Linked DNA regions of Homo sapiens. The protein of the gene in region 2 interacts with the protein of the main gene of each other region in a biochemical or structural test. Each region holds a gene or a part of one and is shown on either strand. Other genes may lie near its edges.

Evidence for each region. Proteins that work in one complex are often made in the same cells at the same time.
Region 1: the proteins of EN1 (region 2) and TLE1 form a complex in vitro, tested with the Homo sapiens proteins (one study listed by BioGRID).

The regions. Positions count from the first base shown.
Region 1 is NC_000009.12:81,679,062-81,684,082, reverse strand, and holds part of TLE1 (transducin-like enhancer protein 1), read left to right. Parts: intron 1-5,021. UniProt on the Homo sapiens protein: Transcriptional corepressor that binds to a number of transcription factors. Inhibits NF-kappa-B-regulated gene expression. Inhibits the transcriptional activation mediated by FOXA2, and by CTNNB1 and TCF family members in Wnt signaling.
Region 2 is NC_000002.12:118,840,725-118,845,223, reverse strand, and holds the end of EN1 (homeobox protein engrailed-1), read left to right. Parts: intron 1-1,969; coding exon 1,970-2,286; 3' UTR 2,287-3,053; downstream 3,054-4,499. UniProt on the Homo sapiens protein: Required for proper formation of the apical ectodermal ridge and correct dorsal-ventral patterning in the limb.

The DNA.
Region 1 (5,021 bases), on a different chromosome or scaffold from region 2:
TTTTTCTTAAACCCATAAACTCAAAGGATTTAATAACCTCATTGACTCTTTTACAAGGGAACACCACCTCAGTGTGATGCTATATGCTGGTGCTGGGTTTATTGGAGGAGCTAAAAGAGGTGTGTAATTCTTCTGGGTTCCTGTAGGTTATGTGGCGGGATGACCTCTTCTTTATCATGTAGGGAGAAGGGGTGAAGTGGGTCAGAAGCACCATGGTGTGAGAATAGTTTTCTAATGAGTTTCTATACAGAGTGAGGCATTTGTGGCTATATACTGTCTGTCCGTGAGCCTGTATGCATTAATAATATGCTGTGTATAATTGGCTTAGCAATTTGAAAAACGTGAAAAGCTGAGAGACACCATGTTCTTCATAGTAGGGTACTGAGCCTCCTGAAATTTAGTTGATATTGGAAATGCTGACAGACCCTTAACTAGAGTGCTGTGCAAAGTAGTGCTATAATTCAGTTTAAAGTGGACTTACATTTGAAAAACATCCTTCTGAATGTCACACATTAATAATAAGTTCTGAGGAGGCATTTGGTGCAGCTAGTAATCATAATTCTTATTAAAACTGGTGACGTCTGGCCCCCAGGGTGTAGCCAAGCTCAAATTGATGCTTTTTGCCGCCTGATCACCAGCATGGCCTAAGTGCTCATTATATTGTAGAGAGGGCCTTTGGAGCTCTCATTAGATTTGACAGGAATTCTCTCTAGGGGGAAACTGGGCATTAGCGAGACTCCTGACAGGCTGAAATTATTCCTGCTTTATGGCTTATAACCAAATGCTAGCAAGGCATCATCAGGGGACACAAAAAATTGTCATTTTTGACAACATCTTTGTTACTAAAAAAAAAAAAAAAATGCAGTGATGGGGAAACTTTCCGTACAGAGAGCTTTAATGCTGTTAAGATTTGTCTCCAGTGTGACGACCGCTCTCCCTTCCCACCTTTCAACGGGTTTGTCGGAGTGAGTTCTAGAGATTTCAGTGTCAAATCTCACTGCTGACTTTCCTGTCTGGAAGTTTTAAAGTGAAAGTGCATCCAAATCAAGAATGGTATAATTGTGGTTTCCTTTCCTGGTGTGGTGCCCACAGCCCGTGTTTAGGTTGTGTCAACACTTCCTGATAAGCCTTGCCTTTACTTTCTCTGCTCCCGTTTGTGGCGGGTTACCGAAAAGGCAATGAAACAGGAATGGTAATAGATACTTAAGTCTTTCATGGTAGCACTAAGAATATTTTTTTCTTGGAGCCCTTTATAGATCCCTGTCTGCCCATCTTTATCTGTGTGGATGGTAAACTCTAGATATCTCTATACAGTAGAGGTAGACAATGTCTCATGGAAAATTGAGGCAGTTCTGATACCATCAGAGTGTTAGGGTGCATTAAAAAACAGCAAGTTGATGTGAGCCTGGTGGTTTGCCTAGCTGTGCCTAGTGTGTGTGGTGGCGTGATCTTTAAATGTTTTTGTCTGTCATATGGTTTGATATTACCTCATTTGATATTTTTGGGAACAAGATGTACTGTAAATGCACACATAAACCTTATTTTAGCCCACTCATGTTATCTTTTCAGCATGCTGATGAAGCCATGCTATAAATTGTCATTGGTGGCTTTAATTTGCACAGTAATGAACAGTTTTCAATGTGATTTGTCTTCTGTGACCTCCATAGGCATCCTCCAGAGTAGATTGGGTAGGTGTTTTGCTCTGCCTACAGCTGTGTGCACGTGTTCAGAGTCTGGGACTTGCTCAAGGCCACGCATCTATTGAAGCTTGAGTTGGGTTGCCTCCTCCAGGGTTGTCTGTGCTGCTGCTGCTGCTTTTTTTTTTTTTTTGAGATGGAATCTCGCTTTGTTCCCCAGGCTGGAGTGCAGTGGTCGATCTCTGCTTACTGCAGCCTTTGCCTCCTGGGTTCAAGCAATTCTCCTGCCTCAGCCTCCGGAGTAGCTGGGATTACAGGTGTCCGCCACCATGCCCGGCTAACTTTTTTTTTCTTTTTTTTGTAGTAGAGAGAGGGTTTCACCCATGTTCGCAGGCTGGTTTCGAACTCCTGACCTCAAGTGATCCACCCACCTTGGCCTCCCAAAGTGCTAGGATTACAGGCATGAGCTACCACACCCGGCCTGTCTGTGCTTCTTCCTATCCCCTCATGCTGCCATCAGGAAGATGAGGTGGACCATGTCTCCCTAGTGCCTGCCTCTTCAGTTCTGACTCTTTGTGCTGATGAACTTCATGATTTGTAAGACATGTCAGGACTGAATGTATGTTCTAAAAGTTAGGAGAATCAGCAGTGCCGCTGACTGGTCTTTCTGGGGAGAGGAGGGTCACAGGCCATGGGTAGATAAAACTACTGAGCAGTACTGTCCTCAGGTTAAAGTATGTTTAAGAAGAAACAAGTCAGGAATCCTGGTGGAGACCCAGTGATGGGGAGGGAGTTTGATCAGTCACTTTGTGCCTGTGTTCTGCTGAAGAATGGGCAGAGTGAGAGCACTGGGCTCTCCAGGATGGTGAAGAATTTTTTTTCTTTTTTTTTTTTGCGCGACGGAATCTCGTTCCGTCACCCAGGCTGGAGTGTGGTGGCACAGTCTCGGCTCACTGCAACCTCCGCCTCCCAGGTTCAAGCGATTCTCCTGCCTCAGCCTCCTCAGTAGTTGGGATTACAGGAGTCCACCACCATGCCTGGCTAATTTTTTATTTTTAGTAGAGATGGGGTTTCACTATATTGGCTAGGCTGGTCTCGAACTCCTGACCTCAAGTGATTCCCCCCGCCTCGGCTTCGCAAAGTGCTGGGATTACAGGCATAAACCACTGTGCCCGGCCGATGGTGAAGCATTTAAAAATAAATGAAAAGACTAGCTCTGAAAATCTGAAAGGAAGGATGATATATTCTGCAATCCTGGTTGGGAAAGGGAAAGAGCTCCATGTGATATTTCAGCAAGCAACATCTCAGGCCATGTAAATTTTGGAGTGAAACTGCTTTTACAGTTTTGATGTGTGCTTTAAAATTTCTCTTAGAAAAATGCGTTGTTCTTTAGTGGGTTTTTAAAAAAGTATTTAGATGGGACTGTTAGGGACTCACCTGTGGGATATTTCCTTAGATGTGATTCTTTTACTCTTTTGCAAATTTTACCTTAGTGTTTTTTTTGTTTTTTTTTTTTAACCCTGTGTGTTTTTGTCTACAGTTTCTCACTTTGAGATTTTTTTTCCCCCTAAGTCAACATCTCACACAGGGAAATGACTAGCTAGAGTATAGGCACTTAGAGTTAAGCTCCAGCAGGTGTTAATAATCTTGTCATACAAAGAGGGTAGCTGTCATCAAGATTGGAGTGGTCCTCAACTTCATTAGCCAGGCCTGTTCTTTGCAAGCATAAGTTAAAAGAGAGAAAGCTCTCTGCATTTAGAGCCTAGATTCCGAGGTGCAAGATTAGCCTTTGTTTCTTATCAGCAAGCAGGACTGATCTCTCACCTCTCAGTCACCTTCCCCACCCTTCAGCAGTGGGCCAGTGGCTGGTTTTTGTCCTGGACTTGCACTGGAGTAAGGCAAGGGAGTCCCTGGGCATGGATTTTAAGAAAATCACAAAACATAGTTATCATGATCAATATTTTGAAAATTCAAACGGAATGCCCCCAAAATCTTCAAGGAACAACATGTCCAAATTTTGTATTAGGGCAGGATCCAACAGGGGGAGTTGGGAATAGGGTGAGGACAGGAGGTAGAGTCAGGCCATTGCAGGGCCACAGCACCTCCCTTGCCTCCCCCTCTTTCTGCCTTTGGTTACCTGTCCTGTGGGGAGTGGCCATGAACTATAGGCTCTGACTTGGTTCCGTTGTAGTTCATTGAAGTCATTTAATTGGGGATTTCCATTCGGGACTGGGCAAGTCATGAACACGTTCCCTGGCTTCAGTTCCCCTCTCTGTATAATGAGGGTTAGACTAGACAAAAGTCTGTTTGTTCCCTCGCATGGTGGGAGCCATCCCAGCATACACCCGCAGAACCCAGCACCTCGTGCGTGCAAATTGAGGAGCGTCCTTCGCCAGAGGACTTAAGATGTTCTCCCAAATAGTGTTTATTAAGAAACAGAAAGAAAATCTGTTTCTTTAGTAAATATTTAAATAAATCATCTTGAGTGGTAGTTAAACTAAAAATATATTCAGTTACTGGCTCATGGAACCATTTTAAGTTTCCATGGATCTGAGTCTTTGCTGTTTTATTATTAAACCTTTTGTGGTCTCCAGAAGTGGATTAAAGGGGAGGAAACTGAGAAACTTACTGGCTTTCCTCAAAGCTTTGATTGATTTCGTTTCCTACCCTCTCCCCTCCCCATTGCTTATTGTTGCCTCTGATTTTTAAAAATGGAAATTCTCACAACTAGTACCTTTACTACAGGGTATTTAGTATAGTGGTTTTTAAGTAAATTTTAGACAGCTGTTTCTGTCGGTGGGCTTATTTGACAAGAATAGGCATCTGTACCTTCAAAATACTCCTCACCAGAGGATTGTTCTGTGAATACGGTGTGATGTTTTAAGTGGAACTAGGATGCGCAGGTGTGGGCAGGAGGAGAGAGGTTTTCTGATTTTTTTTCCCCGTGAGGTGTGGTTTGATCTGAAAAGTGAAATAAATTTGCACTGAAATTTTAACATAAATTAAGATATTCATGTATTGCCATTCACCTGATTTAACAAAAGTATGGTTTCTAAAATTGTTTGCAAAGGAATGATTTCAGATTTGCTGCTTGTGTTTCTTCCTGAGCAGGGTCCACAGGGGAAAAAAAAAGAAAAAAAAGTGAAGAAAAATTTTTAAAATTATTGTTTGTAGACTACCCAGTCACCGTAATATTTTTTAATGAAAATCCAGGAAGTGTTGATATATGATTTTATCAAATAACCTGTGATTTAGCAAAATTACATGTTTCATTATTTAACATTTAATTTTTTTAATGGCGATAGAGTCTTAATCTGTTACCCAGACTGGAGTATAGTAGCGCAATCTTGGTTCACTGCAGCCTCCGCCTCCTGGGTTCAGGTG
Region 2 (4,499 bases):
GCCCCACAGCTGCCGGCCGGGCGCGGATCGATGCGCACTATCAGCTCCCGCCATCTCGAGCCCCGTTATTGACACGTCGGGCTCCCTGAACCTCCGAAAAGCTGCTTTGATTGACTCGCCTGATGGATAGAGTGATTGAGCTGTCAGGCTGCACGGCTCGGGCTGGCCGGGAGACTAGGAACGATTTTATTACAAGAGTCCGTGCCTCTGCACACACATACAACAACACTTCAACATGTCCCGGATGCAGAACGGGCAGTGGGGCCTTTTTGGGGCTGTGTGCATTTCTTGGGCTATTTCTCCCCGCTCAGCTAATTACGAATCAAAACCCCAGTTCTGCTCTGGAGAGGGCCTTGGCTTTGTTCTTGGCCACTTTCCTTCTTATGGGCCTGGGTAGGTAGGGGACCAGCTCCTTCTCCTGCTTGGGCAGTTGGGGGAGGAGGGGATGAGCCTCGACCCAGATCTGAGTCGCTGCAGTATGCTAGGCCTGGACTCTTTGTCATAGGACAGCTGGTTACCCCAGCCTCCTGCCTGCCCCAGGAGTAGGCTGCCCAGCCTTCCTCTCTGTAGCTAGGTTTGGAGATGCCGGCAAAGATCCTTCTTTCCAGACAGTTTTAGAGATGAACAGGCCTGACAGGGACTTAACTTGGTTCAGCAAGCTACCATATCCAAGGCAGGACCCAGCAAGTAAATGCCAGAAGACTTGGGTGTGGAAGCAGGTGGGCAGAGGTGCAGGCTTTTGAGGCACACACCAACAGTTCAATCCTCTCCTGGTTTTCCCGCTTTCCCTCCCTCCTTTCTCAGTGGGCCCTCCTCCCAGACTAGTATTTGAGGGGAACTTCACCTTCCTAAGGAGGTTTCCTGTGGCCCCTTCCCATTCCTATCTGGTGGTCAAAGCACATTTTTTTTTTTCTGGATTGTCCCTGCTTCCCTCCCTCTCCTTTTTGCTCATAGGTGGGGGAAGGGGCTGCAGTCTCCTTGCAAATGTCATCAGTAGGCAGAGAAAGCCAATCCGGCTTGTTTTTGTTATTCAGGAGTTTTTAATCCTGAAATTGCATCAGTTGAAAGGGGAGATAAGGAAGACCCAGATAAGAGAGACCCTGCCCCACGCAGCCGGTTAGAGGAATGTGGAAGGCCCTCCCTTTCTTATTGGCACCATCCAAGGGGCAAGGCTGAAAACCCAGAGCCAGGGTCATGAGGATGGATCAGGGCCTTTTCTCCTTCAGAGAAGGGGTGGTCCCTGCATCCCTGAGACCCTAGAAAAGGCTTCCTTTAGGCCAAAGAGAAAGAAGGCGAGGAGGTGTGTGTGGGAGGGAGGGGTGCGGGGAGGGGGGCAGACACCAAATACTTTGGAGCTAAGCAGCCCTCTCCCAGCCGGCTCACTATCCCGTTGTTTTCTGAGGTCAATAGCTACAAGCAGATGGGGTCTTATTGTAGTTTCTCCTGTAGGTATGATTCTTGAGGAGGAGAGGAAGATTTGTTTGCAGGCTGGCGACTCCCCCAGGGCCTGCCCTCACTGCCCCAGTCCTATCTATTCCGGGGCGGTGAGGACAGCAGGCCCCTGACCCCCAACTCTGGGCTGGGCCATATGAGCTCCAAATATCTCCTCATCTTGGATTCCTGCCTTCTTGGCTTGGAAATGTTGTGATTTCGGTCTGTCCCTGACTGTCCTGTGAGAATTGGGGTGTGGGGTGCACCTACAACCTCAACCAGCTTTCCTTCACTGCTCCTTTGCCCTCCCAAAGGGAACCCGGGGACCCCAGTGGTCTGGTGAGGGGCACTTCGATCCAGGGATTGGCTGGCGGGAGGGAGCCAGGGGTTCAGCAGGGCCTCCGAGATCGCCCCGGAAGCGCGGGGCTCGCGGCCCAGCTCGGCAATGCTATTCTCACGGCTTCCTTTGCCCTCTCCCCCCTCCCTTCTGCCCTCGGTCCCCACCCCCACCCCACCCCGGCCCTCTCCGCCGCTGCAGGTCCGCGCACCAGGAAGCTGAAGAAGAAGAAGAACGAGAAGGAGGACAAGCGGCCGCGGACCGCGTTCACGGCCGAGCAGCTGCAGAGACTCAAGGCGGAGTTCCAGGCAAACCGCTACATCACGGAGCAGCGGCGGCAGACCCTGGCCCAGGAACTCAGCCTCAACGAGTCCCAGATCAAGATCTGGTTCCAGAACAAGCGCGCCAAGATCAAGAAAGCCACAGGCATCAAGAACGGCCTGGCGCTGCACCTCATGGCCCAGGGACTGTACAACCACTCCACCACCACGGTCCAGGACAAAGACGAGAGCGAGTAGCCGCCACAGGCCGGGGCCGCGCCCGCGCCCCCTCCCGGCACCGCCGCCGTCGTCTCCCGGCCCCTCGCTGGGGGAGAAAGCATCTGCTCCAAGGAGGGAGGGAGCGCAGGGAAAAGAGCGAGAGAGACAGAAAGAGAGCCTCAGAATGGACAATGACGTTGAAACGCAGCATTTTTGAAAAGGGAGAAAGACTCGGACAGGTGCTATCGAAAAATAAGATCCATTCTCTATTCCCAGTATAAGGGACGAAACTGCGAACTCCTTAAAGCTCTATCTAGCCAAACCGCTTACGACCTTGTATATATTTAATTTCAGGTAAGGAAAACACATACGTGTAGCGATCTCTATTTGCTGGACATTTTTATTAATCTCCTTTATTATTATTGTTATAATTATTATAATTATTATAATTATTTTATCCCCTCCCCCACCGCCTCGCTGCCCCCGCCCAGTTTCGTTTTCGTTGCCTTTTTCATTTGAATGTCATTGCTTCTCCGGTGCCTCCCGACCCGCATCGCCGGCCCTGGTTTCTCTGGGACTTTTCTTTGTGTGCGAGAGTGTGTTTCCTTTCGTGTCTGCCCACCTCTTCTCCCCCACCTCCCGGGTCCCTTCTGTCGGTCTGTCTGTTCTGCCCCCCTTTCGTTTTCCGGAGACTTGTTGAGAAATACGACCCCACAGACTGCGAGACTGAACCGCCGCTACAAGCCAAAGATTTTATTATGTTCAGAAACCTGTAGTCTGAAATAAAGTGTACACTGTGCTCACGAGCGCTGGCGGCTCTCCTGTTTGCGGGCTCGGGAAGGACGTGGGTCCGGGCACACAGCGCCCCAGCGCCCCTGCGCACGCCGGGCGGGGAGCCGGCCGGGCCTTGCGATCACCGCACAACGAATGCAGGGCGAAGGGGAAGCGCGACCCAGATTTGGGTTTAGCCTGGGTCTGAAGGGTCTGGCGGGACACGCCTGGTCTCCGATTGCGTTCAAGGGAACTCAAAGGCCGACAACCACAGTCCTGGCTTCGGAAACGCTGCCTGGGCTGCGGGGCAGCTCCCCGCACCGGTCCAGGCCCAGCCCAGTGGCGGCCTCCTCCTGTACAAACTGCTTTTCACTCCAACCTGCACTTTTCTTTTTCTTTCTTTCTTTTATTTCCCCTGGTGCAGGTTTTGCTGCAGATTTTTTTTATCCAGAGATAGAAGGGGGCCTGCCTTCCTCCCTCCCCGACAGCCCGCTTGGGCGAGGGGCACTTTGGCCTGGCCTCTTGGCCGCCTGGACTCACTGCACTTCGTTTGCGGGAGGGCTTCTGTTGGCGAAGCAGCAGGTCCGGGGGCGGCCTGCGGAGCCTCGCGGGGCTCGGATCTCCTGGGCCCGCAATGCCGGAGGAGAGGAGGCCCAAATGCTGGGAAAGCTGTTCGGAGTGGCTGCTTGGGCCTTGAACCCGAGGTGGGCGCACGTCTGCCGTATCTGGGCCCTAAACCAAAGAGGGTTCCCTTAGGCATCCCAACAAAGCCTAACTTTCTTCCTCACCAAGGGGGGCGCACATAGAAGCCCCCAGGGCCCTCAGGACACCCTGGGTTCCCAGAAGGAAATGTCTGGCCTCTTGCTGCTAACACTGGGGCCCATCCTTCCAGAGCAGGAGCTGCTCTCAGATCTTAAGAGGTTAAGGGGAGGAAGGGAAGTTTCCTTCTCAGGAGGTATTATCTTTGTCCAGGATTTTTTTAAATTGTAAATTCCACTCCCACATTTTTTCTCTCTTCGGCAATATGTATGTATATACCCACACGTGTGCAGCTAGACGGGCAGGTGCCCACACATACTTGTGTGCATATACAATAATGTGCAGATATTGGTGCACCTAAGTTCCTACCAGTTTTTTGTGTATTCCTGTACCCGTGAGTATTGTGCAACTGATTTTCTTCTCTAATTAGATACACAATTGGACGTTTGTGAGTTCACTGTGTGTACATGCATGAATTTGTGTTTGCACACTGGAATGTCTGCAGGTGTGTTTGCTGGGTTTGTTCATGTGTGAGATCCCTGTTCTCTGTGCTCTTCCCTTGAGTTTCTCAACTGTTTTTGTAGGATTGATTTTGTGCAAAATGATAATGGCTAGTTATTCCACCTTTTTTATTGAAAAATTTTCCCTGATTTGGCCCAATGTACTGTTTGCTCCTGGCCGGGGAACTAACAGGGCTAGATCTCAATCCCAGGAAGCCTAGG